3 separate regions of the Homo sapiens genome follow, and regions 2 and 3 are each reported to be linked to region 1. The links are microRNA targets in miRTarBase. Many come from high-throughput screens and were not tested one by one. Region 1 holds a microRNA gene; each other region holds the end of a gene's coding sequence.

Region 1 (9,728 bases):
CCCAGCAGTTCGAGACTAGCCTCGGCAACTGGATGCCATCTCTGCCAAAACAAACAGAAAAATAGTAAAAGAGAGTCTGCATCATAATAAAGTGTTCTTTTCCCACCTAGTTCTGGTTTTCCTGAGATACTTATTTCCATTCTTTCTGTCTGTCTCTTCAGGAGCGAGACTCCTCCAGTACCTCCCCCACCACCCTATCTGGCCAGTTATCCAGGCTTTCCTGAGAATGGAGCCCCTGGGCCCCCAATCTCTCGCTTTCCTCTGGAGGAACCAGGGCCCCGTCCACTCCCCTGGCCCCCAGGCAGTGATGAAGTGGCCAAGATACAAACTCCACCACCCAAGAAGGAGCCCCCTAAGGAGGAGACTGCACAGCTGACGGGGCCAGAAGCAGGCCGAAAGCCTGCCCGCGGAGTCGGGAGTGGAGGCCAGGGCCCCCCACCACCACGCAGAGAGAGTCGCACAGAGACCCGCTGGGGCCCTCGTCCAGGGAGCAGTCGTCGTGGAATCCCTCCAGAGGAGCCAGGGGCCCCACCCCGCCGGGCTGGGCCTATAAAGAAACCTCCACCACCTACAAAAGTAGAAGAGCTGCCTCCCAAGCCCCTCGAACAGGGGGATGAAACCCCCAAACCCCCAAAGCCAGACCCACTCAAGATAACCAAGGGGAAGCTAGGGGGCCCCAAGGAGACCCCACCCAATGGAAATCTTTCCCCTGCCCCAAGGCTTCGGAGGGACTATTCGTATGAAAGAGTGGGTCCTACCTCTTGCCGGGGTCGGGGCCGAGGCGAGTATTTTGCCAGAGGGAGGGGTTTTCGGGGGACCTATGGGGGACGAGGGCGGGGAGCCCGAAGCCGGGAATTCCGCAGTTACCGAGAGTTTCGAGGAGATGATGGGCGTGGAGGTGGGACAGGGGGACCAAACCACCCTCCTGCTCCCCGAGGCCGCACTGCCAGCGAGACACGGAGCGAGGGTTCAGAGTATGAGGAAATCCCCAAGCGGCGCCGGCAGCGGGGCTCAGAAACAGGCAGCGAGACCCATGAGAGTGATCTGGCTCCTTCAGACAAGGAGGCTCCCACACCCAAGGAGGGAACACTCACCCAGGTCCCTCTCGCTCCCCCACCACCAGGAGCCCCACCTTCACCAGCCCCAGCCCGCTTCACTGCCCGGGGTGGGCGAGTCTTCACTCCCAGAGGGGTGCCATCTCGCCGGGGCCGAGGAGGAGGGAGGCCCCCTCCTCAAGTTTGCCCAGGCTGGAGCCCTCCAGCCAAGTCTCTGGCTCCCAAGAAACCTCCCACAGGCCCTTTGCCACCAAGTAAGGAGCCTTTGAAAGAGAAGTTGATCCCAGGGCCTCTGTCCCCTGTGGCGCGCGGAGGCAGCAATGGAGGTAGCAATGTGGGCATGGAAGATGGGGAGCGACCCCGAAGGAGGCGACATGGGAGGGCTCAGCAGCAGGATAAACCGCCTCGTTTCCGGAGGCTGAAGCAGGAACGGGAGAATGCCGCAAGGGGGTCTGAGGGCAAGCCCTCCCTAACCCTTCCAGCCTCCGCTCCTGGACCTGAGGAGGCCCTCACAACAGTCACAGTGGCCCCAGCACCTCGCCGGGCAGCTGCCAAGTCTCCTGATCTGTCAAACCAGAACTCAGACCAAGCCAATGAGGAATGGGAGACTGCATCAGAGAGCAGTGACTTCACCAGTGAGCGCCGAGGGGACAAAGAGGCACCCCCACCAGTACTGCTGACACCCAAGGCTGTGGGAACTCCTGGGGGAGGTGGAGGTGGAGCCGTACCAGGTATTTCAGCCATGTCCCGCGGAGATCTGAGCCAGAGAGCCAAGGATTTGAGTAAACGGAGCTTCTCAAGTCAGCGGCCAGGCATGGAACGGCAGAATCGGCGCCCTGGCCCAGGGGGCAAGGCTGGCAGCAGTGGCAGCAGCAGTGGAGGAGGCGGTGGGGGTCCTGGAGGAAGGACCGGGCCAGGACGAGGCGACAAGAGGAGCTGGCCCTCTCCCAAGAACCGAAGGTGGGTAGGAACAAACAAATTTATTGTGGTTTAAAAATTGGAGGAGGGGGAAAAAGCCTGAGGGAAAGATAAGTTTGGGTGGAGTGGAGATTGTGGCCTGAGGGGCCATGGGCTCTAGAATGTCAGTAGGATTTCCATGTCTGGCTAAGGCAACTGGAAAGCGGTTGGTAGGGTGTTAGAGTCAAGAACACCCACCTATGTATTCATTGCTGGTTCTTTGCTTTCCAGTCTGTGCATCTGTATGCATAGGAATCCTTAGAAGGACTCAAAAACACCTGGACTTTAATAGGGAAGAGAATAGGTTGTAAGCAGAAGTTGGGAAACATAACTTGTGGGAAAAAGTAACGATTTAGTGGATACTGGAGCTAATGCTCTGTTTTCTCCAGTCGTCCTCCAGAGGAGCGTCCCCCGGGGCTTCCCCTGCCTCCCCCACCTCCCAGCAGTTCTGCTGTCTTCCGCCTGGACCAAGTTATCCACAGCAACCCTGCTGGCATCCAACAGGCTCTGGCCCAGCTTAGTAGCCGTCAAGGGAGTGTAACTGCACCAGGGGGTCATCCAAGGCACAAGCCTGGGCTTCCCCAAGCCCCTCAGGGCCCCTCTCCTAGGCCCCCAACCCGATACGAGCCCCAGAGGGTCAACAGCGGCCTCAGTTCTGGTAAGCTGGAGGGGTTATGGGTGGGAATATCTCCATCCCCAGAGAAGGTCAAGTGCTGGAGGGAGCGGGTGGAGAACCTGGCCTAGGGACCCTGCTGCTGGGTGCGTTTCTGCAGGGAGCAAGGGTAGAAGAATTGGGAGGTGGAGTAGAGAGGAAAAGTTAGGGTCAGTGGCAGAGCCAGGCAGATGCTGACCCTTTTTCTCTTTCCCAGACCCCCACTTTGAGGAGCCGGGGCCAATGGTGAGAGGGGTGGGTGGGACTCCTCGGGACTCTGCCGGGGTTAGTCCCTTTCCCCCTAAACGTCGGGAGCGGCCTCCCAGAAAACCAGAGCTGCTACAGGAGGTAAGGGATGGGTTTGAGATTGTGCTTCACTGCACTCTTACTCGTGAAAATTCTTCTGGGTTATGTTTTCTCTGTTTTCTTTCCTGTTTCTTTCACTGTGTTTTTACTCCAGAATTCTCAGTATTAGTCTCCCATGTGTCTCCCTTGTTGTCCCCACACCCTGTGTCACCCCACTCTGTCCTGGCTTCCTATAATTCCCAATTCCCACCCAATTCATGTTTTGCTTCTGGCCCTTCTCATCTGTAGGAATCTTTGCCACCTCCTCATAGCTCTGGATTCTTGGGCTCTAAGCCTGAGGGCCCAGGCCCTCAGGCAGAGTCCAGAGATACAGGCACAGAGGCCCTGACCCCTCACATCTGGAACCGTTTACATACTGGTGAGTAAAGCTGAGTGAAAGGACTATGGTAGAAGGGTTAAGAATGAGAGGGGCTTCTGAACTGTCATCTCCTCACTTCTCTTCTGGTTGGTGCTCCCTTCTCCAGCCACTAGCCGAAAGAGTTACCGGCCCAGCTCCATGGAGCCTTGGATGGAGCCCCTGAGTCCTTTTGAGGATGTGGCTGGCACAGAAGTGAGTGAGGGTGGGAGGGTGTGTCTGAGCTGGGACTTTTTTGAGCACTGGTCATACCCCCCACCTGCTCTGGGTTGAGTCTGGAGCTGTTCTCTCACTTGGCTGTCCCCTTTCTGCAGTTTGTATGTGTGCATCAGTCAGGTATTGGGGTGCTTTCTACCCTGACTTAACTAGCTCCTTCTCCACTCCTCTCAGATGAGTCAGTCTGACAGTGGGGTGGACCTGAGTGGGGATTCTCAGGTGTCATCAGGTCCCTGCAGCCAGCGAAGTTCCCCTGATGGAGGACTCAAGGGGGCAGCAGAGGGACCCCCCAAGAGGCCTGGAGGCTCCTCACCCCTGAATGCTGTTCCTTGTGAGGGTCCACCTGGCTCTGAACCTCCTAGGAGACCACCACCTGCCCCCCACGATGGGGACAGAAAGGTAAAAGACCAAAAAAGGATAAGGGGAATGTTTCCAGGAATCTGACTTTGGCCCTACCTTTTTCTGCTTTTTCTCTCTGCGTGTGTGTTCTGGGCATTCCAATTTGGATTTCCCTTTCCCTCCCCCAATGCACTTTACTGTGTGCCCAATCCAGGAGCTGCCCCGGGAGCAGCCTCTGCCCCCTGGCCCCATTGGCACAGAACGATCACAGCGTACAGACCGAGGCACAGAGCCTGGCCCCATTCGGCCATCCCATCGACCTGGTCCCCCAGTCCAGTTTGGCACTAGTGACAAGGTCTGTGTGGGCTGGATCTGGGTATCCTGAGTTGGGTGGAGAGAAGGGAAGGACTAAAGGTGGGACATAGAGGACACATGTCTGTCACGGGACAATGTCTCCTGCCTTCTTGTGATCACAGGACTCAGACTTACGCCTAGTGGTAGGAGACAGCTTGAAAGCAGAGAAGGAGCTAACAGCATCAGTCACTGAGGTAAGTGGGAGTAAGAGTTTGGTGGAAAGGCCCAAGATTTCTGGGGAAGATTGCTGGGAGTGACCAGGGCGTCCAGGATGCCAGACATCCCTCTCCACGAGGCCTCTCCTTCCCAGGCCATTCCTGTATCACGAGACTGGGAGCTGCTTCCCAGTGCTGCTGCCTCTGCTGAGCCACAATCCAAGAACCTGGATTCTGGGCACTGTGTCCCGGAGCCCAGCTCCTCAGGCCAGCGCCTGTATCCTGAGGTTTTCTATGGCAGTGCTGGGCCTTCCAGTTCTCAGGTAGGCCCCGCTTCCCATTGCATGACCCCTTCAGTGAATAATAATTTTTTTCTGCCTGGTATGTATTTATAATCAAGCCTTTCTACGTTGCAGAGTTGTGAGATACCACTTTGTCACATCATTTTTCTCCCTACTTTTTGCTTCTATGGGTGGGATGGTGATCTTTTTTCTTGACCACAGATACTAAAGCTGTTTCAACCGTGCTCCTCTCCTGCAGATCTCTGGGGGAGCCATGGACTCTCAATTACATCCAAACAGTGGAGGCTTCCGCCCTGGGACACCCTCACTGCACCCTTACAGGTAAGACTCGATGCCTGTGGATCACAGAAGTACTTGGAGATGTGTTTCGGGGAGAGGGAAGGGGAAGACACAGTTCTAGGGTACTAGAAGCTAGTGGACTTAAGGCATTGCTAGGACTCTGGCTTCCTAACAGCTTTTCTCCCCACAATTTATTTTCAGATCACAGCCCCTATACCTACCCCCCGGCCCAGCCCCTCCCTCAGCACTGCTCTCTGGGTTAGCTCTCAAGGGCCAGTTTCTGGATTTCTCCACAATGCAAGCTACAGAGCTGGGGAAGTTGCCGGCTGGAGGAGTTCTCTACCCTCCACCTTCCTTCCTCTACTCTCCGGCTTTCTGCCCCAGTCCTTTGCCTGACACATCGTTGCTTCAGGTAAGAGGGGGGCAGGTATTAGATATTGGGGGATAGGGTAGGGAGAATGATTTTGTGGGGGTTGATATATTTCTCCCTGTTTCCCGACAGGTACGCCAGGATCTGCCATCCCCTTCGGATTTTTATTCTACTCCTCTGCAGCCTGGTGGCCAAAGTGGCTTTCTCCCTTCAGGGGCTCCTGCCCAGCAGGTATATTGTATCTTCACACTTCCCCTTCATTTGATTTCTCTGTCCAGTTGCTGGCTTTGATTTTCCCTGGTTTTCTGACATTCCTCCCTGCCCCCAACATGCACACCCAAATTTCTTGTTACAGATGCTTCTACCCATGGTAGACTCACAGCTGCCTGTGGTGAACTTTGGCTCCCTGCCGCCAGCACCACCTCCTGCCCCACCTCCCCTTTCTCTGTTACCTGTGGGCCCTGCTCTGCAGCCCCCCAGCCTGGCTGTGCGGCCCCCACCTGCTCCTGCTACTCGGGTGCTGCCTTCACCTGCCAGGCCCTTCCCCGCTAGCTTGGGGCGAGCAGAGGTAAGGTACAGGAACTGAGGGGCTAGGGAGCGCCAAGACTTGGGAGTAGGGATTCTGTATTTCAAGGTAGGCAGCTCATGATTTTTTTCCCCTCAGCTGCATCCAGTGGAACTAAAGCCGTTCCAGGATTATCAAAAACTGAGCAGCAACCTTGGGGGACCTGGATCATCACGGACTCCCCCAACTGGAAGGTGAAACGGAATAGGGATGTGGACTTTCCAAGTGCTTCCTTACTTTGGAACCAGGGTCTGGATCCTAGGCTTGCCTTAGACGCCCTTCTTCCCTTAGGTCCTTCTCTGGCCTCAATTCCCGTCTCAAGGCCACGCCTTCCACCTACAGTGGAGTCTTCCGCACCCAGCGCGTCGACCTTTACCAGCAGGTGAAGGAGAAACCCTTGTGGCCCCAACTCTAAATTCGAGTTGCCACCTGATTTCCTGTCCTTCCGTCTCATCGCTGACCTCTCACTGTGACTCACTGTTTAACACATGCCTGTCCCCTAGGCCTCCCCACCAGATGCCCTGCGCTGGATACCTAAGCCTTGGGAGCGGACAGGGCCGCCACCTCGAGAAGGGCCCTCCCGACGGGCAGAGGAGCCTGGGTCCCGAGGGGACAAGGAGCCTGGGTTGCCCCCACCCCGCTGAGGGAGTTCCTCTTGCCCCCTACCCCCGGGGCTTGTATATAGATTATAAATATATAAGGGGGAAAGGGGTGGGCGGGGAGGGGTTCTGGGGCTGGGGCCTCACTTCCCCTCCTCCCCCTTCCCCTGGTCCCCTGTCCCTGGGGCTGTTTGTTAAAAAAGAGTAATAAAAGGATTTAAAAAAAAAAACTTCTACAATGATTTGGGGGATGAGTTGTTTGCATTGTCTTAAAGCATGGTGCTGAGTGATCTGTAGTTTCAGTCAGGGAAATATTCATTACTTATTCCAGTGAGCTGTTGAAACTAAAAACATGACCATCGTATTGGATCTTTAAATTTTTGTGAGTCTGGAATTTGGGCTGAGCTCAGCTGGATAAATCTGCTTTTTTGTGCCAGTGAGCGAGGTCAACTGGTTATCAGTCTGCAGCTGACACCTGGGCTGGTCCCAATATGGCTTCCTTTGCATATCTAGGGCCTTGGTGGGACATCTGTAACATTACTGGGTTATCAACCAGTGTCTTCACATGGACTCTCCAGCAGGCCTGTTAAATGTCCGTGAGCTCATGTTCCAAGAGGTCTAGCTGGAATTTTCTAAGCTTATGCCATGCTTAGTTGATAAGAGCACTAAACTAGCCAAGGTAGGGGATGGGGGGGTTTAGAAGGGACTTCAACTGCATCTCAAAGGGACTAGCAAAGAATTTGCAGCCATGGGACTTCAGTTCTTTATGATGAACTAAGGGGAAATCTCTGTTAAGGCCTCAATGTTGGAGCACACTTAAGGGGCTCTTTGAATTGGATAGACCAATTCCAGCATTGTCAAACTAAGTGGGATTTCACATGGTAACGCTGCATGCTAGTTATGCTAAAGACTATACTTAGGTCTGCAGCTGCTCAGAAACTTTTTTTGATGGGTAATTTGAGAGCTCTATGCTAGTGTGCACCTGGAATATGCTCCCAACTCAAAATACAGGTTTTTTATTTATATATAAAGTGCTTTCGCACAAAAAATACAAACATCAGGCTGGGCGCGGTGGCCCACGCCTGTAATTCCAGCACTTTGGGAGGCCAAGGCGGGTGGATCACAAGGTCAGGAGTTCGAGACCAGCCTGGCCAATATGGTGAAACCCTGTCTCTACTAAAAATACAAAAATTAGCCGGGCGTCGTGGCGGACGCCTGTAGTCCCAGCTACTCAGGAGGCTGAGGCATGAGTGAGAATCACTTGAACCCGGGAGGTGGAGGTTGTAGTGAGCCGAGCTCGAGATCGGGCCACTGCACTCCAGCCTGGGAGACAGCAATACTCTGTCTCAAAAAAAAAAAAAAACAAACATCAAAACTGGCTTGTACAATTTAGCGTGCTGAGTAGAACACAACAGTGTTCCAAGGAAGTATTAATTTAAAAAAGTTCACACAAGATTAAGGGACACACTACCTAATGGAGACAATGTAGAGAGAAAGCAGCCAGAAAAATCCGACTTTTATTTCTTAAATACTGTGAAGGAAGAGGGGGGAAACGGTCCCCTGATGAGGAAGGGCCATAGAGCAAAGAGCTAAGGATCATCAGCAAAGGCCCGCTGGGCATTGGGGAAGCGCTGGGGACTGTAGTTGGGGTCTTCCTGCAGTCGTTTTTGTATATCAGACCGGAGCTAAAGAGAAAAAGTAAGCAGGTTGGAGAAACGCTGGCCAAGTCCCCATGATCCCAGCAAGCACACAAGGCCATCCCTCAGAAGCTAACATTTCCCCCCCCAAGCACACTGTCAAATAGCCCGGGGTGGCACTGTCAAGCCTTCCCAGATGCCAAAGGGGAAAACAAATGGTAGCACCAGGCTGACCAGTTCATCGCTGAAGGGATCCAGGGAAGAGGGACCCTAGCCCAACCCCTCCCACTAGACCATCCCTATTCTGCTTCAAGGTGGCACCTGCTGCCTGTAGCTCTCCTGAACCTCTGGTGCCTCCAGGTCCCGGCTCAGGCTCTCGGGGCTCGTCAGGGGCCGAGCTCCGGCTGCCTTAGCTGCCCGGCTCACAGCCTCTGAGAGAAGCAGCTGGGGGCCCTCACCCTGCATCGTCTGGGGGACAGGGGGTTGGGAGGGAAAAGAGGATCAACGTCAGATCCAGTGCCACCATCCGGCTCACCCTTTCCATGAGTCAACCACTCCACTGAGTCTCCATGCTAGTGGAGAGAGGGGAAATTAAGAGTCCAGGATGTGGTTTTTACAGCAGAAATGCCTTCCTAATTCTCTTTGGCACTAGCCAAAACTAAAGTGAATGTGCTTGAACGTGCTCTTCAAAACGAAAGGCAGAAGGGGTCAAGCCATCCGGGATTCAGAGCTAGGTAATCCACAAGAGGAAACCCACCTTAAAGGAAAATGGGATCTAAGCACATGGGGATTAGGCAGCTGAGCAACTAATACAGGACTGCTAGCAAACAGACTAAGGTCAAGTCCTGTATGGTTATGCAACAACCAAGAGCAAGTCTGAATCCCAGAAAAAGTTTCCTCATTAAACGAGGGGAGGGGAGACTGAATAACAAGAGCTCCCACCATCTCTACATAGTTTGATTCCAGGCATGACGGGGAAACCTGGATAGAGAGAGAGGCTTAGGGAAGAGGAAAACCAACCTTGCGTCTCTTGGCAGGCATACCACTGAGGTAGGCATCACTCAGAGGGGGCTGCGGTTTCACCTTCCGCTGGCTCTGAATGTCCTGCTGGATAATAGGGACCCATTCCTGGGGAGGAAAAGAGAAAATAGTAATGTCCTTGACTTTCAGCTGCCATGACCCACTGGATTACTTCCTGACACTTACTGGGGGGACTGCAGCTGCCCAAGGTTCTGTCTCAGCTGAAGCTCCATCCTGTTCATCCCGGGAGCCCCCCTCAGGAGCAGGAGGTGGACCTCGGGACATGGCCTCTTCTGCTGTTGTTCCAGGGGCTGGGGAAGCATTCTCCCGCTGGGTGTCAGATGGCGGGAAGAGCCAGGCTTCAGAATTTTTAGCCTCCAAACCTTTCTCCCCCAGCCCTCCACTCCACATTATCTGGCCCCTCAACCTCCCCCTCTCTAGAGTACCTGAGGCTCAGGGGAAGCTCTTTCTGCTCCCTGAACTTCCATTGGCTCCTCAGGAAGTGGC
Region 2 (10,658 bases), not on the chromosome of region 1:
AGGCCCGCGGGTTGTCGCAGGGCCTGCGCCTCAGCCCCACCCTGTCGCCTGCCTGTCCTGTGCCACCCCCCGGCGTGGCAGAGGAGCAGGGTGGAATCCGTGAGGCCTCAGATGTTACCCCAGAGCAGTGTGAAGGTGGGCTTTTGTAGCAGAGTTTGCGTTTTTATAGACAAGAGCTGGTCTGTCGTGGACCTGCAGGAAAGGGGTCGGGAGCGAATCTGCATTCACTGCCCATGGTACTAGGCACCTGGGGTCCATCAGTGGCTCAGCAAAACCCCCGCCTTCTTGGCGCATGTGCTCCAGAGGAGAGACTGACAAGTAATTGTACGGCGGCACGCGAGGTGGAAGGGAGGGGAGAGCAGAAGGAAGGGGCTCGGCTCAGGTGTTGAGGGGGTTGTCAGTTGGTATTTCCAACACGTGGTAATGATGAGTCTCGCCATCCAGGGACTCTGGTGGAAACGTAGGCTTTCTTCATCAATATCAGCTGAAGGTCTCAATGTGAGGGGAGGGAGGAGGCTGTGTTGCTGTCCTGGCTGCAGGTGTTGCCGGGGCTGGGGTCCTGCGGGTTTGAGGATGGAAGGGCTTTCTGAGGAAGAAGCATCAAAGTCGGGCTTGGGCTCTTGGCCTCCAGGCTGGTGGTCCCTTCAGTCCCAGCAGCCCAGGTGTGTGAGGCTTTGTACCTAAGTCTGCGACCGGACTCTGGGCAACGCGGGAGGAGAGCGCAGACAGACCCAGCCCATTCTCCGCAAATCCCAGTCTGCTCCCGTATTAAGAGATGCAGCGTGGCCCTCTCTCTACTTCAGAGCTTCCCCCAAGCCCCTGTGACCCACAGAGCCAGGGCCCTGCTTGCTGATGATGATAGCAGGACTAAAGCCCACCAACCCACAGGCTGCGCGGTCACCCGGTCCCACAGCTGTGCCTACCCTCAGCCTCTCTCCTGTCCCAGGCCCAGTTATGTCGCCAGCGAGGAGAGCCGAATCCTTGTTCTCACTGAGCTGCTGGAGAGGAAAGCCCACTCTCCCTTTTACCAGGAAGGCGTGAGCAACGCCCTGCTCAAGATGGCTGAGCTGGGGCTGACGCGGGCGGCCGACGTTCTCTTGCGGCATGGGGCCAATCTCAACTTTGAAGGTCAGCGAGAGCCCCGGGGGTGGGCAGGTGGCTTAAACGCGGCCCGACGCTGGGTGGGCGCCCATGTCCCCAGCCTTGGCTTCTACCATCCTCTGAGGAGTGACTTCCCCCCCTTTATTTCCTGGGTGGCTGCAACTAAGGAAACTCCCATTGGGTGGCCTCCCACCCCCTGCGGGTTTTCACATGGCTCTTCCCACCTCTGTTCCAAGAGCGAGTGTTGCTGCTTCTACCATGTGATTGATTAGCAAACTTTCCCCAGCTCCCAGATTAATCCCCACTTCCATTAATGCAAAAATGCGGCTGCTGGCACTGTGCCCAGAGCTAAGGGAAGGTAATTTTCTGCTACTTACTCTGAGCCAATTTGTTTTTTTTTTTCTCATGCCGTAGGGAGAGGGGAAAACAGGCTGCATTAGGCATAAATCACCACAGGACACCCTGGCTCCTGGCTCCTGAGTGCCAGGGATGGAGATGGAGCCGAGCTCCTTTCTCTGTGTTTTTCAGCCCAGGGAGGGCAGGGTTAGTCGGCAGACAGGCAGGGCTGCCTTGTGACCTAATAGGGGCCTGAGACAGCCAGGCACGTCTCCTTTCCCCATCCGAAGACGGGCTTGGAGTCTGCTGGGCTCCTGGAGGGTCAAGGAGCTGAGACGGGAGGGCCGGTTCTGAAGCCAGTGACTTGGAGACCAGCTTGGAGAACCTGGCTGTTACCACCAGGCCTACAAAGCAGAGCCGCCAGAGCTGCTGTGTAGCGCGGCCTCCCAGCCATTCTGAGAGGGTGCGCCCCGTTTTATGGTCCCTTCTTACAGAAGAGGAAACTAAAGCCCCCAACAGCTTCAGTAGCGTGCCCACTAGAACACCCCGAGGGCCCTCTAGTATCTGGTGAGGACAGCTCTGTCCTAACCCTTGATGGTGACAGGAGGCTGGGCCTGTGCTTCTGGACACTTTAGGTGGGAGTTTGGGGCTGGGCTCTGGGTCCGGGGGCCCCATAAGAATGCGGACAGATAGGACCCACATGAGCTGTGTCTGCACCTTCAGACCCAGTCACCTACTACACGGCCTTGCACATCGCCGTCCTGCGGAACCAGCCGGACATGGTGGAGCTGCTGGTGCATCACGGGGCCGACGTTAATCGGAGGGACCGGGTAAGTGCCAGGTCCAGCTTGCTTTGAAGCAGGGTTGGGCAGGGGCCTGAGCAGCTTCCCAAGCCAACCTGGCTGTGCTTCCTTGGCTCAGATCCACGAGAGTAGCCCCTTGGACCTGGCCAGCGAGGAGCCTGAGCGCCTGCCCTGCCTGCAGCGCCTCCTGGACCTTGGAGCTGATGTCAATGCCGCTGACAAGCATGGTGGGTGCCTCCTGCAGGAAAGCAGGACAGCTGGGCCCCCAGGCACCTTGTGGGGGACACCCAGGGTGCCCCAGGACAACAGCTAGGTGGGCAGACTGGATGCTGGCCCTGGCTGGTGGCACAGCATGGCTGGGCACACAGGGATTCTGCTGACTTGCTGAGCTCAGAGGCTTCAGAGAGGCAGTGCAGTCATTGTCCCTGTGCTGGCCCTCAAGGGCCTTCTATAGGAAGAAATAGGGCATGTGTGCACTTAGTTTCCAAGAAACAATGGCTTCCCATTGGGAGAGGCCCAGCCAACATCTCAGGTAGCATCTTGGGGTCCAGAAAAATCCTACCTTTCCTGGCCTTTCCGCTCCCACTTCTCTGGGTGGAAAGGGAATGGCCAGAAGCCTGTCACCCTCAGCCCTCACCTGAGCTGAGAGTTGTCTCTGAAAGTTCATCTTCTGATCCTCTGAGTGTCTGGATTTCTGCCACCTCCTCTGGGTTGCCCTGACCTGGGCTTCCTGGCCTCCTGCTCCTCCTTGCTCTCCCTCCCTCCCTAGGAAAAACTGCTCTGCTCCATGCTCTGGCCAGCAGCGACGGGGTGCAGATCCACAATACTGAGAACATTCGTCTCTTACTGGAAGGAGGTGAGGCTGGCGCGCTCCTAGGCCTCGTCCTCTCACCCGCCCCTTCGATGTGTGCTGTTGCTTTGCCAGGGTTGAAGGCCTTCTCCCAGCATCTCTTGTTCTATGGCTCTTCTAGGGGCAGACGTCAAGGCCACCACCAAAGATGGGGACACAGTGTTCACCTGCATCATCTTCCTGCTTGGTGAGACCGTGGGAGGGGACAAAGAGGAGGCCCAGATGATCAACCGCTTCTGCTTCCAAGTCACACGGCTGCTGCTGGCACACGGGGCCGACCCCAGCGAGTGCCCAGCCCACGAGTCCCTCACCCACATCTGCCTGAAGAGCTTTAAACTGCACTTCCCTCTCCTGCGCTTCCTCCTGGAGTCCGGAGCCGCCTACAACTGCTCCCTGCACGGTGCGTCCTGCTGGTCTGGCTTTCACATCATCTTTGAGAGGCTCTGTTCCCACCCAGGCTGCACGGAAGACGAGAGCCATGCGGACCTCCTGCGCAAAGCTGAGACTGTCCTGGATCTCATGGTGACCAACTCTCAGAAACTCCAGCTGCCCGAAAACTTCGATATCCACCCTGTGGGCAGCCTGGCGGAAAAGATCCAGGCCCTCCACTTCTCCTTGAGGCAGCTGGAGAGCTATCCCCCGCCCCTCAAGCACCTGTGCCGTGTGGCCATCCGGCTCTACCTTCAGCCGTGGCCTGTGGATGTGAAGGTCAAAGCCCTGCCTCTGCCCGACAGGCTGAAGTGGTACCTCCTTAGCGAGCACAGTGGCTCCGTGGAAGATGACATCTGATAGGTCTCAGGCTACAGGAACGGGGGACACGGGCAGCTCAGGTCAGCCTGTTGGTAGATGCTGGGACAGCATTAGAAGAGGGTCTTTTTGATCTGGGAGATGAGACGGGATCCTTCATGAGAAAAGCCAGCCAGGTAGAGCCTGAAGCTGTGATCACTCCAGTGGTGAAGGGTGCAGCTCTGGTTCTTCCAGAGAGACTGCCCCCTTCCCTCCAGCGGCACTCCAAGTCCCCCCCATGTTGGAAAGAGGAACAGGGCTTGGATTGATGTTTATACCCTCTGAATTGGAGGGCAGTGCCAGGGCATTTGCAGAAGCTGGGAAGGACCAAGCCTCAGCACCCCAGGGCTGCGGGGCTCTTGTTGGCCGCACGTGGCAGTGCAGCTGGAGAGGAAGCCTGGGGCACGTCCTGTGCGGTGCCACCAAGGCCCCACCCCTGCCCCTTTTCCTTCCAGGTTCTGTTACTCACAGAAGTGTTTCTGGTGGGCTCTGCGGGAGAAGACACTAAGGGCCCCACAGGCTTGTTTCATGGTGTTGCAAGCCAAGCTGGCCCCTGCCTGTTCCTGTAGCTCTGGGGCCAGGTCAGCCGTGGCCCCACCTACCAGAACTGTGCTCTGCTGGCAGCTGTGCTTTTGCCAAACCCAGGGCCTCAGCGACCATGACTTCTGCTAAAAAGCAATCATGAGTGCGTGGCTGGGGACAGACCTCTCTGAAGTGTCTCCTGTTGTGAGGGGCTCACTTTGGAGCCACTGAAGAGCCGACTGTGCCACCCACTTGCGAGCCTCAGTCCCTTCCAAGCTGCACTGGTCATTGGGAATTGTGTAAACACCTCTGGGGATAAGCTGAGGTGACTAAATGATATATTTATATTATAAGATTAAACTGACTTTCTTGGCCTTAACAAGGTCCTTATATAAAATTTCCACCCCGCCCCTCCATAGTTCAGGATAGAGGCTCCCACAGCAGCCGGTAAGGAAGTGGGTGGCAGGTGTGAGGGGATGCTGTGTTTGGGGGGTTGTTTCCAAGTCCCTGCAAAGAAGCACCACTCTAGACTGGCAAGGGCCTCCACAGTGTGGAGGTCCCATTTTATTATTTTTTTTTTTCGAGACACTCTGTCACCCAGGCTGGAGTGCAATGGTGCAATCTCGGCTCACTGCGACCTCTGCCTCCCAGGTTCAAGCAGTTCTCCTGCCTCAGCCTCCTGAGTAGCTGGCATTATAGGTGCCCACCACCATGCCTGGCTGATTTTTGTATTTTTAGTAGAGACGGGGTTTCGCCATGTTGGTCAGGCTGGTCTCAAACTCCTGACCTCAGGTGATTCGCCTGCCTCGGCCTTTCAAAGTGCTGGGATTACAGACATGAGCCACTGTGCCCGGCCCCCATTTTATTTTAGTTTTATTTTGAGACAGAGTCTCGCTCTGTCACCTAGGCTGGAGTGCAGTGGCGCAATCTCACCTCACTGCAAGCTCTGCCTCCCGGGCTCACCCCATTCTCCTGCCTCAGCCTCCTGAGTAGCTGGGACTACAGGCGCCCGCCATCACGCCTGGCTAATTTTTTTTTTTTTTGTATTTTAAGTAGAGACGGGGTTTCACCTGTTAGCCAGGATGGTCTCAATCTCCTGACCTCGTGATCTGCCCGCCTCGGCCTCCCAAAGTGCTGGGATTACAGGCGTGAGCCACCGCGCCCAGCCCCATTTTATTTTTTACTTTAAATGCCTGCCAAGGAGCAGCCTCAAGCCCAGAGAAGACTGAGGCTACGGGGAACTTCCCTTGCTGCAGGCTGTTGTAACACTTTAAGGGCCCCAGGTCTCCACTGCCAAGCAGGACTTGGCACATGAGCACCCACCCCACAGCACCATCAGGCAGCACCCATGGGCTCCACCAGCCCAGCTCTGTCCCTCCCCTAGGTAAAGATCACACTGAAGTCTTCAAGTCCCCAGCAACCAAGTTGGGGGTGGTTTCCTTCCTCTTCAGGCAGCCAGGCCCATGGCTGGAAGGCCGGGCTGGAGGCCCAGGGAATCGGTTACTGATGTGGCCACCCTATTCCCACATGGGGAGCACCAGGAGCCCTGGAGCCCCTTCCACCCAATCCCATCTCGCAGGAGAGCAGGGTCTGGGCTCCTGCCTCACCGCTGGTTCAGCAGCACCCTCCCCGCCGGGTCCCACCTTGCCTTTTGAAGAAGAGCCCGCATAATGAGTGGACGGCAGACAGCTATATTTAGTGGTGCCTCGACACTCACGAACCGCCAGCGTGGCGCCTGGATCTTGCCCAGCTGCCAGCTCCCCCCACCAGGACTGTGGTTCCTCAGTTTCTCCTGCCAGCCCCGGCTCATCTCAGGGCAAAGCTATAGACATGGTAGATCTCATCGGGGAGGTTCTCCTGCCTCTCCTCGGCCAGGAGGCTGAGGCCTGCACTGCAGATGATCCTGCGGACCACGTCAAGGTCCCGGCACACGCTGCTGTCCACGTCGTCCAGAATCACGCCCTCCTGGGCCATGTTGTCTTTGATGACGATGATGCCGTTGGGGCGGAGGCTGCCCTTGCAGCGCCGCAGGAACTCGGCCAGGTGCTGATCGGTGAGGTGGCCTGGGGAGGGCAGAGGCAAGGTTACCAGGGCACCATGCAAGCGGATGTCGGCACTGGATGGGATGTACTTCTCAGCCCCGCTGAGCCCCTCATTTGTGCCCAGCATTTTGTGTGCACACATGGCCTCATTGGCTCTCAGTCCCGAGAGATTTACTAAACCCCAATTCATAGAATAGGAAACTGTGGCTCAGAGGTCATCTACCTAAAGACACATTAAGCCAGAATTTGACTTGACGGGATGGCTTACAAGTCCTGCCTGATACCTACACACCATGATGCCCCACCCCTGCCAGGCTTGGATCGGAGGAGTGAACCTGGGCTAAGAGTTTGGCATTGCAGGAGCTCCCAGAGAGACTGCCTTCCCTACACTAGAAGTCCCCACAAAGGCTTCTGAGACCACAAAATACAAGGCCAGACCTAGAGTGTCCACAGCAGGCCTGTGCTGCCCGCCTCAGGAGGTGGCCGACTGCTGCTAGCGGCCTGCCGCCACGTCAGCAGCCCAGGGCACAGCGCTCGAGGTGTGCTGTTAGGCTAAGAGGGTGCAGGGCTAGACACGAAGCTTAAACTATTCATCTTATTAAAAATAAAACCCTTATAAAACTCCTCACTTTGAATGCAGTAAGTTATTGGCCATTAAAATTTTTTCAACAAAAAACTGCACCCAAATGGATGGTAGCAGGTATTCAACTGAAACAAAACCTAGAAGGAAGAAATCTACCTTTTAGGCCGAGCCTGTCCCTCAGTCCTGGGAAGTACGGGGTGGGGGTGGGCCTGGGCGGGGTGGGGAATCCTCACTGGCCCACTTGCTGCAGGAGTGCAAAGCCCTGGTCCTGACACCTTATGGGGAACGCGAGTGGCAGGAGACATACAGGTGAGCAGGGAAGGGCGGTGGAACCCTCACCTATCACCCACTGGATCCAGATCACGTCGTAAGAGTCCGGCTCCGGGGTGAAGTCCTGGAGCCCACAACAGAAGTAGTTCCTCACCCTCTTGCCCTCCTCCCCCAGGTAGGTCTTGGCTTGAACCAGGAAGTCCTCCGTTATGTCGACCATATCCACCTCTCTGAACAGCGGCAGGAGCAGCCGCTTGGTGATCCTCCCAATGCCAGCTCCACAGTCCAGGGCACAGGACGTTCCTGTCTTGTTCGGGCCTTCCTGAAAAGCAGAGGCATATAACCTATCAGAGGGACCCTGTCACCGCACGTGCGGCCCTTCCTCACGAGCCCTAGGACTTAGACTCAAGTCAGGATTCCAGGACTCCGCACAAGCTGAGCACTGGTGGGGAGGTCTGTGCTGGCTGCCAGCTTGTACGGAGTCGAGGGGATGAGCATGGGAGGACACACTGCTGGGCCACACATTCCTTTATCTTTGAAAGTTCAGGTTGCATTCTGCATTCTGTTCAGGTTGGAATGCAGTGGTGGGATCATGGCTCACTGTAGCCTCGAACTCCTGGGCTCAAGCCATCCTCCATCTTCCCACCTCAGCCTCCCAAGTAGCTGGGACTACAGGCATGCGCCACCATGCCCAACTCATTTTTTTTTTTTTGTATTTTTTGTAGAGACGGGGCCTCGGTCTGTTGCCCAGGCTGGTCTCAAACTCCTGGGCTCAAGCAATCCTCTCACCTTGGCATCCCAAGGGGCTGGGATGACAGGAGTGAGCCACTGCCCCTGCCCTGGGCCACACATTTCTAAATGAAAGCTAATTTCCACTTAAAGGTGATAACTTGAACAGGTGCACTAATCTCTCCTGAGTCTCCAGGTAAACAACGGCAGAGAGGAATGGGGAGAATGGAAGCGGGGCAACAGGTGAACAAGGGTGCAGAGAGGGAACATGGAGGGAGGGGAGGCGCTGGATGGAGCAGGTGGCCAACAGCAGCCTCCAGTGCCAGCCATGAGACAAGAAGGTGGGGGGCTCCAGGACTGGGGGTCCCAGCCTGGTACAGAAAAGGCTGGGGGTGGAGCAGAGGGTGGAAACCATGGCACATAACTAGGAGTCTTCGTCCAGAATAGCCAACACCCTCAGTCCAAACACCCGTGGACATGGCAGGAGAGCAAGGGTTTCGTCCCTGGCAAAACCCAACAGTTGAAGAGAGGTTTGCCCAATTCAGGCACCTCAATTCTGCCTAACAGCCAGCTCCTGTCTGGTAACCCTGAGGCTAAGTCCACAATCTAGAAGTTACCCCACTGTGCCCACCCAGCCCAGCTCCTCAAGGCTTTGGGGTAGGTACCAAGAGATAGCCAACAATCCTGCAGTGTTACATGTGTAAAAGGTGGCACCCCACATGGACTCGGCAGTGCCACCAGAGCCACAGCCTCTCCTGGAGAGCACGCCAGACCTGCCTACCCTCAAAAACCTCTGCAGAAACTTCCGGGAGCTGTTGATGTCGATGCTGGAGATGTGGCCATACCCCCCAAGCATGCCGTCCACCGTGGGTGGGATTTGTTTCCAGTAGGTCTTGGCCTTGGAATAGAATTGCTTCTCGTCTTCTATCACCTCGCTCGTCATGCTGTCACCAACCACGGCTCTACTCAAGCACCACGATCAGCAACCGCGACTCTCCTGGGTAAGGAAGGGGGCGTGAGTCAGCGGGCCAGGGACCTGGCAGAAAGGCCCCCAGGGCAGAGGGCCAGTCTCACACCAGGCTTCACAAGTCACACATCCTGCTGAGTGCAGAGAGAAGTCCAGGGTCCCCAAATCTGCTTCTACCCCTTGGATAACAGCATCTTCTGTCTTTTGCACTCAGAGCACCCGCCCCAAGTCCTGGCTTCAAGTTCTTTTACATTTTTATTTTTTCTGGAGTGCAGTGGTGTGATCATAGCTCAATGCAGCCTCCAACTCCCGAGCTCAAGAGACCCTCCCACCTCACCCTCCGGAGCAGCTAGGACTACAGTTGTGTGCCACCATGCCTGGCTAATTATTTTTTGTAGAGATGGGGTCTCACTATGTTACAAAGGTTGGTCTTGAAGTCCTGACCTCAAGAGATTCTCCCACCTTGGCCTCCCAAAGTGCTGGGATTACGGGTGTGAGCCCATGTGCCTGGCCTGGCTTCAAGTTCTTGATATGCTCTATATGACACCTGACTCAGTGGCTTCAGGGCACAGAAAACCCTGATCAATAAAGAGAAACGACCGCAAAGCCGAGAGCACCAGCAGACCCTGGAGGGCCAGGGAAGCTTCCACGCCTCCCTTCCTCTGGCTCAGAGCACAGCAACAACTCACGGTGGGGTCCAGTCCTCCGTTAACAAGGAGTGGGGACTCTGTGCCAGGCACCGGGCTGTGAACCAGGCAGCCAGCCAGGCAGAAAACAATTCTACAGACACAACCACACCTGCAGGGAGGGCTGCAGAGGAGAAGCGCCAGTGCCAGCAGAGCACGGAGGGAGGAAGTGGAGTCGGGTGCGGGGACCAGGGAAGGCATCCCTGAGGAGGGGACGCGTAAGCTGAAACCGATGGATGGGCAAGAATAAGCGCAGTAGGTGGAGGGCGACGGCACTGCTCCTGGAGGGAAGGACAGACAGCCCTCGCGGCTGCCAGTTCCTGGTCTCACAGTCAACTCTAGCAGTTTCGACTGCATCCTACAGAGCAATGAGTCAACCACCCTGAGGCCCAACAGAGAGTGGCCCGGGAAGACCGATGCTTCTGAAGACTGCTGGCGGCGGTGGAGATGGCAGGGGGATGAGGAGACGGTTGCCACGGTAGAAGGAGAGAGAACTAGAAAGCCTCAGCTGGGTCCTGGCAGCAGAGCCCAGGCCCACCTCACCCTTCAGGACAGCGATGACAGTTGGGCGGCTCCGTGCTCCACGGGTGGCCATTCTGCCATAAGCTTCCCAAGGCACAGTGCTGTCACCAAGGCACACCACGCTTAGGGGCTGTTCTAGTTGCTGTGAGGCTTGCCAAGACCTCAGAGAGCTCTAGTCCAGGAGGACAAAGAACAAAGGGAAAGAAAATACACAGCAGAAAAATAAGGATTCTCATGGACCCACAAAGTGTCGAGGACACTCAAAGGGCAGAGGAATCTCCTCCCAACAGCAGATAGGGGCAGCCGCCTGGAGGAGGCAGCCCGAGCTGGGCAGCCAAGCACAGGGAGTGCTGGAGGGGGTGGGGCAGACAGAGGGAGCAGCCGTGGGACAGCATGGGCCATCAGAGGGCGGAGAGTGGAGCGGGGGAAGACTGTGGAAGGTGAGCTCGGAAAGGCAGACG
Region 3 (10,658 bases), not on the chromosome of region 1:
TGGGAACTCCCACCCCCATCACACCCTGTGGGGCTGCCTGGGAGAGGGGAGGCATGGGGCCTCGTGTGCAGGGTGGGGGTGGCGCCACTGACCCTCCGGCCTGCAGTCAGGTCCCCTCCTGGACCGTGTCTTCACCACCTACAAGCTCATGCACACGCACCAGACAGTGGACTTCGTCAGGAGCAAGGTAGGCGTTTCCTGCCGCCCCGTGCAAACGCGGAGGGACCCTTGCCCTCAGCCCCATGAGCCCACCAGGCGCCGAGGGGATGGAGAGGCCTGTGTGGTGGGCCTGCTGACCCTGGGCCACACTGCCTTCTCCTTCCCCGCCAGCATGCCCAGTTTGGGGGCTTCTCCTACAAGAAAATGACAGTCATGGAGGCCGTGGACCTGCTGGATGGGCTGGTGGATGAGTCGGACCCGGACGTAGATTTCCCCAACTCCTTCCATGCCTTCCAGACAGCGGAGGGCATCCGGAAGGCCCACCCAGACAAGGGTGAGCCCTGGCTGTGCTGCAGGGGGGCAGGTGCTGCCTCCAAGGGGCAGAATGCAGCAGCCTGTAGGGTGGGAGGGGACAGTAGTGGGCCCAGGCCTCCTCCAGCAGCCCTGCCTGGGTTGGGGAGCAGGCCCTGGACCCTTCCTGGCTCTCAGCCCCGCAAACCTGCTCATCCTCTGCCTTGGCCCCTGCAGTCCCCAACCTGCCCTGTCCATCCCCCTCCCAGACTGGTTCCACCTCGTCGGGCTCCTGCACGACCTGGGGAAGGTCCTGGCCCTGTTCGGGGAGCCCCAGGTAAGAGTTGGAAGTGGAGGGTGAGGAGGCTGCATGTTGAGGCAAGGTGGGGGTGGAGTGGCCTTGGTGCTTGGCCTGGGATACTACCTGGGGGACAGGCCAGTGCACCCCCCACGGCCCCCCGACGGCTGCCTGTCCCTCTGGTGGCCTCGGTGCTTGGCCTGGGATACTACCTGGGGGACAGGCCAGTGCACCCCCCACGGCCCCCCCCACGGCTGCCTGTCCCTCTGGTGGCCTCGGTGCTTGGCCTGGGATACTACCTGGGGGACAGGCCAGTGCACCCCCCACGGCCTCCCCGCACCACTCCCCCCACGGCCCCCCATGGCCGCCTGTCCCTCCTGTCACTCTGCAGTGGGCGGTCGTCGGCGACACCTTCCCCCACTTCCCCCACGGCCCCCCATGGCTGCCTGTCCCTCCTGTCCCTCCTGTCCCTCCCATCCCTCCCGTCCCTCCTGTCCCTCCCGTCCCTCCCATCCCTCCTGTCCCTCTGCAGTGGGCAGTCATCGGCAACATCTTCCCCCACTCCCCCCATGGCCGCCCGTCCCTCCTGTCCCTCTGCAGTGGGCAGTCATCGGTGACACCTTCCCCCACTCCCCCCATGGCCGCCCGTCCCTCCTGTCCTTCTGCAGTGGGTGGTCATCGGCGACACCTTCCCCCACTCCCCCCATGGCCTCCCGTCCCTCCTGTCCCTCTGCAGTGGGCTGTCGTCGGCGACACCTTCCCCGTCGGATGCCGTCCGCAGGCCTCCGTGGTTTTCTGCGACTCCACCTTCCAGGACAACCCTGACCTCCAGGATCCTCGATACAGGTGCTCCCTGCTGCTGAGGGCTGGGCCCCCTTCCCTGGGCGGCTGCTGAGCCCTCCTCACCCTGGTATCTCACTGCAGCACAGAGCTCGGGATGTATCAGCCCCACTGTGGGCTCGACAGGGTCCTCATGTCCTGGGGCCATGATGGTGAGGCCAGAGGCGGGCAGTGGGGCGGTGGGGGGCGGTGGGGGACGGTGGGGGGCGGTGGGGCAGAGGCAGTGCCTGCTGGTGACACCCTCTCCCCACAGAGTACATGTACCAGGTGATGAAGTTTAACAAGTTCTCACTGCCCCCTGAGGTAGGTGGGGGGAGGGGCAACGCAGCCCGTCCACCAGGCCCGGTCCTGCAGCCCCAAGTGAGCCGCTGGGTGGCCTTGCCCGCAGGCTTTCTACATGATCCGGTTCCACTCCTTCTACCCCTGGCACACGGGCCGCGACTACCAGCAGCTGTGCAGCCAGCAGGACCTGGCCATGCTGCCCTGGGTGCGGGAGTTCAAGTACGCCCCGCTACCCGCCGAGGGGTGTTGTGGGAGTGAAAGAGGGGGTTGGGTGGGGGGCCTGGGGGTTCTTCACGGGGCTCACCGCCCCTCCCTGCTGCAGCAAGTTCGACCTCTACACCAAGTGCCCGGACCTGCCGGACGTGGACAAGCTGCGGCCCTACTACCAGGGGCTCATTGACAAGTACTGCCCTGGCATCCTGAGCTGGTGACCCTCCTGCCACCCAAGCTGCTGCTGGACCTAGGCCTGGCCCTCCGCCTGCCTGGAGAGGCCTGGCCCTGGGCAAACAGCCGCCATCAGGGTTCACCTCGGTGGGGGACCCCACTCACCCCCTTAGGGTCGCCACCCCTCACGGCAACTTGTGCCTGGCGTCAATAAAGACCTGGAAGGATGTTGTGCTTCTGAAGCCCCACTGGGTGTTACTGCAGCAGGGCGTGGCCCAGGCCGAGGGATGGTGCCAGCAGGGTGGAGGCCAAGTCCCAGGCTTTCAGGTGTGTGTGTCCCACCACACTGGCCGTGGTAAACATCTGCCCATCCTCCCAGCTCCTGTGTCAGAGCCTGGGGGACGAGTCACCCAGCTCACCCCCACATGCTCAAAACAGTCACCAAGTCCTCTGGGCTCCGTCCCCTTAAAAAATACCCCAATAGCTAAAATAATACATTCATAGAAAACAACAAAAAACAAATGCAGGCTGGGCACAGCGGCTCACACCTATAATCCCAGCACTTTGGGAGGGCGAGGTGGGCGGATCACCTGAGGTCAGGGGTTCAAGACCAGCCTGGCCAACATGGTGAAACCCCGTCTCTACTAAAAATACAAAAATTAGCCGGGCGTGGTGGTGGGCGCCTGTAATCCCAGCTATTCAGGAGGCTAAGGCAGGAGAATCGCTTGAACCCGGGAGACAGGGGTTGCCGTGAGTCAAGATTGTGCCACTGCACTCCAACCTGGGTATCAAGAGTGAAATTCCATCTCAAAAAAAATAAATAAAATAAAATAAAACAAGTGCACAGTTTAAATGCTATAAAGCAAACACCTGCGGCCACCACCCCTGAACCGACTCTCCAGTACCCTCCGCATGCCCCGGGTGCGGCTCCCCGCACAGAGCAGCCCCTCCACAGGCTCTGCAGCCACCGTCCATCCTCTCTACATGGTTTTGTCACCCAGGCGTGCAGCCCTTGGTGCCAAAGAGTGGCCTCCCCTCCATCTTCTCTGAAATTCATCTCTGAAGAAAGTAGATTGTCCCAGGAAATTCGTCTTTGTGGGGATTCTGTACCTGTTAACGTTTTCCTCTGAACTTCTGCCAATCGGTGCACGGATTTAGAGGCTTCCCCAGATCCTGTTTGGTTGGTTGTGGGCACGAGTGCTTTCAGGCAGTGGTGTTTCCTGAGGAAGAGGCATGCGGTGCCTGTCCTGAGTGTTGTCAGCGGGCAGCTGTGGGCGTTCAAGCTTATCCGGATCCCCCACTCCCCTGGGTATGGAACAGCCCAGGTCACTTTCTGTCCTCGTCCGCCGCAGGGAACACTTCAGGAAGTGGAAGTTGCCTCCCACGTGCTCTTTGGCTACACAGTGGCACTGTTCGTATAGAAAGGCAGGTCGATGTTTCAGTCCTTCCCTTAATTTTTTTTTTTTTTTTTGAGACAGTCTCACTCTGTCGCCCAGGCTGGAGTACAGTGGGGCAATCTCAGCTCACTGCAACCTCCCTCTCCCGGGTTCAAGCAATTCTCCTTCCTCAGCCTCCCTAGTAGCTGGGATTACAGACCCACGCCACCACACCTGGCTAATTTTTTTTTTGTACTTTTAGTAGAAACAAGGTTTTGGCCAGGCACGGTGGCTCACACCTGTAATCCTAGCACTTTGGGAGGCCGAGGCAGGAGGATCACTTGAGGTCAGGAGTTCGAAATCAGCCTGGCCAACATGGTGAAACCCAGTCTCTACTAAACATACAAAATTAGCTGGGCCTGGTGGTCGGTGCCTGTAATCCCAGCTACTCCGGAGGCTGAGGCAGGAGAATCACTTGAACCTGGGAGGCGGAGGTTGCAGTGAGCCAAGATCGAGCCACTGCACTCCAGCCTGGGTGACAGAGCGAGACTCCGTCTCAAAAAAAAAAGGCATTTTTTGGAAAATAGAAAAACATAATTCTAAAATTCCTATGGAATTTTAAGGGAACCCAAATGGCCATAACAATCTTGGAAAAAAAAAAGTTTACTTCTTGATGACTAAAGATAAAATAGAAAACATAAAAAGGAAAAAGATGTAAAAGAAACAAAATAATTAAAAGGTAAAAAAAGAACAACAAAGACTGGGCACGGTGATTCATGCCCGTAATCCCAGCACTTTTGGGAGGCCGAGGCGGGCGGATCACGAGGTCAGCAGATTGAGACCATCCTGGCCAACATGGTGAAACCCCATCTCTACTAAAAATACAAAAAATTAGCTGGGCGTGGTGGCACGTGCCTGTAGTCCCAGCTACTCGGGAGGCTGAGGCAGGGGAATTGCTTGAACCCAGGAGGCAGAGGTTGCAGTGAGCCAAGATTGCGCCACTGCATTCCAGCTTGGCAACAGAGCGAGACTCCGTCGCAAAAAAAAAAAAAAAAAAAAATTAGCCAGGTGTGGTGGTGGACACCTGTAATCCCAACTACTCGGGAGGCCGAGGCAGGGAGAATTGCTTGAATCTGGGAGGTGGAGGTTGCAGTGAGCTGAGATTATGCCACTGCACTCCAGCCTCAACGACAGAGCAAGACTCCATCTCCAAAAATAAAAAGAAGACAGGTGCAGTGGCTCACGCCTGTAATCCCAGCACTTTGGGAGGCTGAGGCCGGCAGATCACCTGAGGTCAGGAGTTCAAGACCAGCCTGGCCAACATGGTGAAACCCCATCTCTACTAAAATACAAAAAAATTAGCCTGGCGTGATGGCGGGTGCCTGTAATCCCAGCTACTCGGGGGGCTGAGACGGGAGAATTGCTTGAGCCTGGGAGACGGTGGTTGCAGTAAGCTGAGATTGCACCACTGCATTCCAGCCTGGGCAGCTGAGCAAGACTCCATCTCAAAAAAAAAAGAAAAAAAAAAAAGGCTGGGTGCAGTGGCTCATGCCTATAATCCCAGCACTTTGGGAGGCCGAGACGGGTGGATCATGAGGTCAGGAGAGCGAGACCATCCTGGCTAACATGGTGAAACCCTGTCTCTACTAAAAATACAAAAAATTAGCCGGGCGTGGTGGCGGGCGCCTATAGTCCCAGCTACTCGGGAGGCTGAGGCAGGAGAATGGCGTGAACCCGGGAGGCAGAGCTTGCAGTGAGCCAAGATCGCGCCATTGCACTCCAGCCTGGGCAACAGAGCGAAACTCCATCTCAAAAAAAAAAAAAAAAAAAAGAACAAAGTTGGAGGACTCTCATTTGTCAATTTAAAAACTTACCACAAAGCTACAATAATCAAAACAGCATGGGCAGGCATGGTGGCTCACACCTGTAATCCCAGCACTTTGGGAGGCTGAGGCAGGTGGATCACCTGAGGTCAGGAGTTCAAGACCAGCCTGGCCAACATGGTGAAACTCCATCTCTACTAAAAATACAAAAATTAGCTGGGTGTGGTGGCAAAAGCCTGTAATCCCAGCTACTCGGGAGGCTGAGGCAGGAGAATTGCTTGAGCCCGGGAGGCAGAGGTTGCAGTGCACTGAGATCACGACACTGCACTCCAGCCTGACTGACAGAGTGAGACTGTCTCAAAAACAAAACAAAACAAAACAGTGTGGCACTGGCTTTAAAGACAGACACAGAGATCAATGGGGTTAAATAGACAGCCCAGAAATAAACACTTCAATATATGGTCAAATGGTTTTCAACAAGGGTGCCAGAATCATTCAATGGTGGAAAGAATGATCTTTTCAACAAATGGGGCCAGGAGTGGTGGCTCACGCCTGTAATCCTAGCACTCTGGGAGGCCGAGGTGGGCACATCACCTGAGGTCAGGAGTTTAAGACCAGCCTGGCCAACGTGGTGAAATCCTGTCTTGACTGAAAATACAAACATTAGCTGGGCATGGTGGTGCATGCCTGTAATTCCAGCTACTGGAGAGGCTGAGGCAGGAGAATCATCTGAGCCCGGGAGGCAGAGGTTGCAGTGAGCCGAGATCTCGCCACTGCACTCAAGCTTGGACAACAGAGCCAGACTCCATCTCAAAAAACAAACAAGCAAAAACGAATGGTTCTGGACAAATAGAATATTCACATGCAGAAAAATGAAGTTGGGCCGGGCACGGTGGCTCACGCCTGTAAACCCAGCACTTTGGGAGGCCGAGGTGGGTGGATCACCTGAGGTCAGGAATTTGAGGCCATCCTGGCTAACATGGTGAAACCCTGTCTTTACTGAAAATACAAAAATTAGCTGTGCATGGTGGCAGGCACCTGTAATCCCAGCTACTCTGGAGGCTGAAGCAGGAGAATCGCTTGAACCCGGGAGGCGGAGGTTGCAGTGATCCAAGATCTCGCCACCGCACTCCAGCCTGGGCGAAAGAGTAAGACTCTGTCTCAAAAAAAAAAAAAAAGAAAAATGAAGTTGGACACTTACCTTACACCACATACCACATACAAAAATTAAATCAAAATGGATCAATGACCTAAACTTTTTTTGCTTTGAGACAGGGTCCTGTTCTGTCACCCAGGCTGAAGTGAAGAAGTGTGCCACAGCTGACTGCAGCCTCGACCTCCTGGGCTCAAGCGATCCTCCCATCTTGGCCTCCAGAGTAGTAGGGGGACTACAGGTGCACACCACCACAGTTGGCTAATTTTTATTTTTTGTAGAGACAGGGTTTCTCCATGTTGCCCAGGCTGGTGTCGAACTCCTGGGCTCAAGTGATCCTCCCACCTTGGCCTCCCAAAGTGCTGGAATAATAGACGTGAGCCACAGCGCCCGGCTGACCTAAACTTAAGAGCTAAAATGGCCAGGAGCGGTGGCTCACGCCTGTAATGCCAGCACTTTGGGAGGCTGAAGCAGGTGGATCTTGAGGTCAGGAGTTTGAGACCAGCCTGGCCAACATGGTGAAACCCTGTCTCTACTAAAAATACAAAAATTAGCCGAGCATGGTGGCACTTGCCTGTAATCCCAGCTACTCAGGAGGCTGAGGCAGGAGAATCGCTTGAATCTGGTAGACGGAGGTTGCAGTGAGCTGAGATTGTGCCACCACATTCCAGCCTGGGCGACAGAGTGAGACTCTGTCTCAAAAAAAAAAAAAACTAAAACTTTAACCTTCAGAAGAAAACAGAAGACAAGCTCCTTGACATTGCATTAGGCAATAATTCCTTGGATATGACACCAAAAGCACAGACAACAAAAGAAAATAGATAAGTTGGCCAGGCGCAGTGGCTCAGGCCTGTAATTCCAGCACTTTGGGAGGCCGAGGCTGGTGGATCACGAGGCCAAGAGATCAAGACCATCCTGGCCAACATGGTGAAACGCCATCTCTACTAAAAATACAAAAATTAGCTGGGCGTGGTGGCGCGTGTTTGTAGTCCCAGATACTAGGGAGGCTGAGGCAAGAGAATTGCTTAAACAAGGGAAGTGGAGGTTGCAGTGAGCCGAGATCACACCACTGTACTCCAGTCTGGCAACAGAGCGAGATTCCATCGCAAAAAAAAAGAAAGAAAGAAAGAAAAGTTTATTTTTCTAATTTTTCTTTTTCTTTCTTTTTTCTTTTCTTTTTCTTTTTTTTTTTCGAGACGGAGTTTCGCTCTTGTTGCCCAGGCTGGAGTGCAATGGCGTGATCTCAGCTCACTGCAACCTCTGCCTCCTGCGTTCAAGTGAATCTCCTGCCTCACCCTCCCCAGCAGCTGGGACTACAGGCGCCCGCCACCACGCCTGGCTAATTTTTTGTATTTTTAGTAGACACGGGCTTTCACCCTGTTAGCCAGGATGGTCTCGATCTCCTGACCTCGTGATCTGCCCGCCTCGGCCTCCCAAAGTGCTGGGATGACAGGCGTGAGCCACCGCGCCCGGCTGATTCCTCATTTTCAACCCAGTCTCTCTTGACCACTAAGCCAACTAGTTCCAGCTTTTTCTGAAGACAAGTCAGGTTGCCCTCCCAAACCTTCCCTCTTCATACAGGGGCCTTCTACCTGACCTCTGAGATTTCTCGCCCAGCACCTCAGCAAGGGCTTGTCTGATGCTGCTGTACTTTGTCTACCCCTCCAATCACAGGAGTCCGTAGTTCCTAGAAAATCTATTTTTGCTCCTGTCCCAATCCGCTGAATAAACTGTATACAAAATTCAGGTGTGGAATCTCATGTTGCTCCCTTTGGTCAAGTTACCTATTTTCCCAAGCCTGCATCTAAGCTTGATCCTTCTCCTGCTAAAAGCATCTTCGGCCGGGCGTGGTGGCTCATGCCTATAATCCCAGCACTTTGGGGGCCAAGGTGGGCAGATCATGAGGTCAAGAGATCGAGACCATCTTGGCCAACATGAGGAAACCCCGCCTCTATTAAAAATACAAAAATTGACCGGGCACGGTGGCTCGTGTCTGTAATCCTACCACTTTGGGAGGCTGAGGCGGGTGGATCACCTGAGGTCAGGAATTCGAAACCAGCCTGACCAACATGAAGAAACCCTGTCTCTACTAAAAATACAAAATTAGCCAGGCGTGGTGGCACATGCCTGTAATCCCAGCTACTCGGGAGGCTGAGGCAGAAGAATCACTTGAATCTGGGAGGTGGAGGTTGCGGTGAGCCAAGGTCGCGCCATTGCACTCCAGCCTGGGCAACAAGGCGAAACTCCATCCCAAAAACAAACAAACAAAATACAAAAATTAGCTGGGCATGGTGGTGTGCGCCTGTGGTCCCAGCTACTTAGGAGGCTGAGGCAGGAGAATTGCTTGAACCCGGGAGGTGGAGGTTGCAGTGAGCCGAGATTGCACAACTGTACTCCAGCCTGGGCAACAAGAGCGAAACTCCGTCCCCAAAACAAACAAACAAAATACAAAAATTAGCCGGGCGTGGTGGTGTGCGCCTGTGGTCCCAGCTACTCAGGAGGTTGAGGCAGGAGAATTGCTTGAACCCGGGAGGCGGAGGTTGCAGTGAGCCGAGATTGCACCACTGCACTCCAGCCTAGAGGACAGAGCGAGACTCTGTCTCAAAAAAACACAAAAAACAAAAACTTCCTGGCCAGGTGCAGTGGCTCACGCCTGTAATCCCAGCACTGTGGGAGGCCGAGGTGAGGGGATCATATGAGGTCAGGAGTTAGAGAACAGCCTGGCCAATATGGTGAAACCCCGTCTTTATTAAAAAAATAAATAAATAAATTAGCTGGGCATGGTGGCACGGCCTGTAATCCAAGCTACTCCAGAGGCTGAGGCAGGAGAATAGGTTGAACTCAGGAGACAGAGGTTGCAGTGAGCCAAGACTGCACCACTGCACTCCAGCCTGGGCGACAGAACAAGACTCCGTCTCAAAAAAAAAAAAAAAAAAAATCTTCCTGGGTATTCTCTCTGCCAGCTCTCTGCCCCAGCTTGTCCACGACCTTCTCCTCAATACACAAGTGTGCACCCCTGTCCAATCTCCCACTTAATTCACAGGACAGCTCTAGATCTCTGCTTACTTGCCAGACAGAGACAGTCAGACACCTGGACCGTGGCACCCACCTGTCCAACCTCGCCCAGCTCAGATCACCAACCTCATCGATTTCCTTGCAAAACTTTTGACTTCCGCCTTGGACTTTTGCCCCTTAAAATTTTATCTCTGCAGAGTTAGAATATGACATTGCTTTGTCGATACCATAATAATAAGGCTACAGTAAAGGGAGAGCTATTCCCTCCCAAATTACATTTTCTCTAGATTGGGCCACTCTTGCCATTTTAAACTTTCATTTATTTACTTATTTTTATTATTTTTTTTTGAGACAGCGTCTCGCTCTGTCACCCAGGCTGGAGTGCAGTGGTGCGATCTCGGCTCATTGCAACCTGCGCCTCTCAGGTTCAAGCGATTCTCCTGCCTCAGCCTCCTGAGTAGCTGGGATTACAGACATGTGCCACCATGCCTGGCTAATTGTTGTATTTTTAGTAGAGACAGGGTTTCACCACGTTGGCCAGGCTGGTCTCAAACTCCTGACTTCATGTGATCCACCCGCCTCAGCCTTCCAAAGTGCTGGGATTACAGGCATGAGCCACTGCGCCCAGCCTCATTTCTGGTCTCTGTTCCTGCTTTTCCTGCTCGGCGAGCCACACAGCTAGAATCATCTCACCAGCCAGGGCCTCTGCCCGTGGTTCTTGTGCAGCTCTGGAGAGCTGCTCTTCCCATCCAAAGGTCTTCGATCCCCTACAGTCCACAGTTCCCAGTTCTCCCCTCCACGTGCATGGAAGCAGGACACCCCAATCTCATCTCTTTTTTTGTTTCTTTTAAGAAACCAGGTCTTGCTCTGTTGCCATGCTGGGAGTGCAGGGGTGCAATTAGAGCTCACTGCAGCCTCGAACTCCTGGCTCAAGTGATCCTCCTGCCTCAGCCTCCTGAGTAGCTGGGACTACACGTTCAGGCCACCACATCTGGCTACATTTTAAATTTTTTTTTTTGTAGAGAGAAGCTCTTGCT

The links. Region 1 holds the annotated microRNA hsa-miR-6832-5p (AGUAGAGAGGAAAAGUUAGGGUC, at 2,815-2,837, shown strand). A microRNA usually pairs through its seed, bases 2 to 8, with sites in the 3' UTR of a target mRNA and lowers its output. Matches are read on the target gene's strand: a 7mer-m8 pairs with bases 2 to 8, a 7mer-A1 pairs with bases 2 to 7 and ends in A, and an 8mer does both.
Region 2: miRTarBase lists NTMT1 as a target of hsa-miR-6832-5p. The part of its 3' UTR that is shown has no 7-base or 8-base seed match.
Region 3: the mRNA of MIOX is a reported target of hsa-miR-6832-5p. Seed matches in the 3' UTR shown: 7mer-m8 at 2,893-2,899.

The regions. Positions count from the first base shown.
Region 1 is chr6:31,630,978-31,640,705 of GRCh38, forward strand. MIR6832 (microRNA 6832) reads left to right here and starts at 2,810; the gene lies at 2,810-2,881. It overlaps PRRC2A (proline rich coiled-coil 2A), which reads left to right. Exons shown (of 31, transcript NM_004638.4): 16 at 162-2,015; 17 at 2,402-2,670; 18 at 2,882-3,012; 19 at 3,259-3,388; 20 at 3,495-3,580; 21 at 3,776-4,000; 22 at 4,155-4,295; 23 at 4,417-4,488; 24 at 4,605-4,772; 25 at 4,990-5,072; 26 at 5,232-5,442; 27 at 5,533-5,631; 28 at 5,756-5,968; 29 at 6,065-6,159; 2 more. The coding sequence ends at 6,609. It overlaps BAG6 (BAG cochaperone 6), which reads right to left. Exons shown (of 26, transcript NM_001387994.1): 22 at 9,668-9,727; 23 at 9,408-9,551; 24 at 9,222-9,329; 25 at 8,523-8,669; 26 at 8,051-8,249. The coding sequence ends at 8,154. RefSeq lists a silencer at 3,702-3,865.
Region 2 is chr9:129,631,011-129,641,668 of GRCh38, reverse strand. NTMT1 (N-terminal Xaa-Pro-Lys N-methyltransferase 1) reads right to left here. Exons shown (of 4, transcript NM_014064.4): 2 at 8,804-9,019; 3 at 7,363-7,615; 4 at 5,534-6,461. The coding sequence starts at 8,965. The coding sequence ends at 6,205. It overlaps ASB6 (ankyrin repeat and SOCS box containing 6), which reads left to right. Exons shown (of 6, transcript NM_017873.4): 2 at 947-1,128; 3 at 2,161-2,267; 4 at 2,359-2,467; 5 at 3,010-3,096; 6 at 3,212-7,064. The coding sequence ends at 3,879. Among named protein-coding and RNA genes, the nearest start is that of ASB6, 5.8 kb to the left of the region's middle. RefSeq lists enhancers at 458-1,014, 1,015-1,572, 9,528-10,318.
Region 3 is chr22:50,487,556-50,498,213 of GRCh38, forward strand. MIOX (myo-inositol oxygenase) reads left to right here. Exons shown (of 10, transcript NM_017584.6): 3 at 107-187; 4 at 331-493; 5 at 720-787; 6 at 1,485-1,594; 7 at 1,673-1,740; 8 at 1,842-1,891; 9 at 1,977-2,089; 10 at 2,193-3,093. The coding sequence ends at 2,301. Among named protein-coding and RNA genes, the nearest start is that of MIOX, 6.0 kb to the left of the region's middle.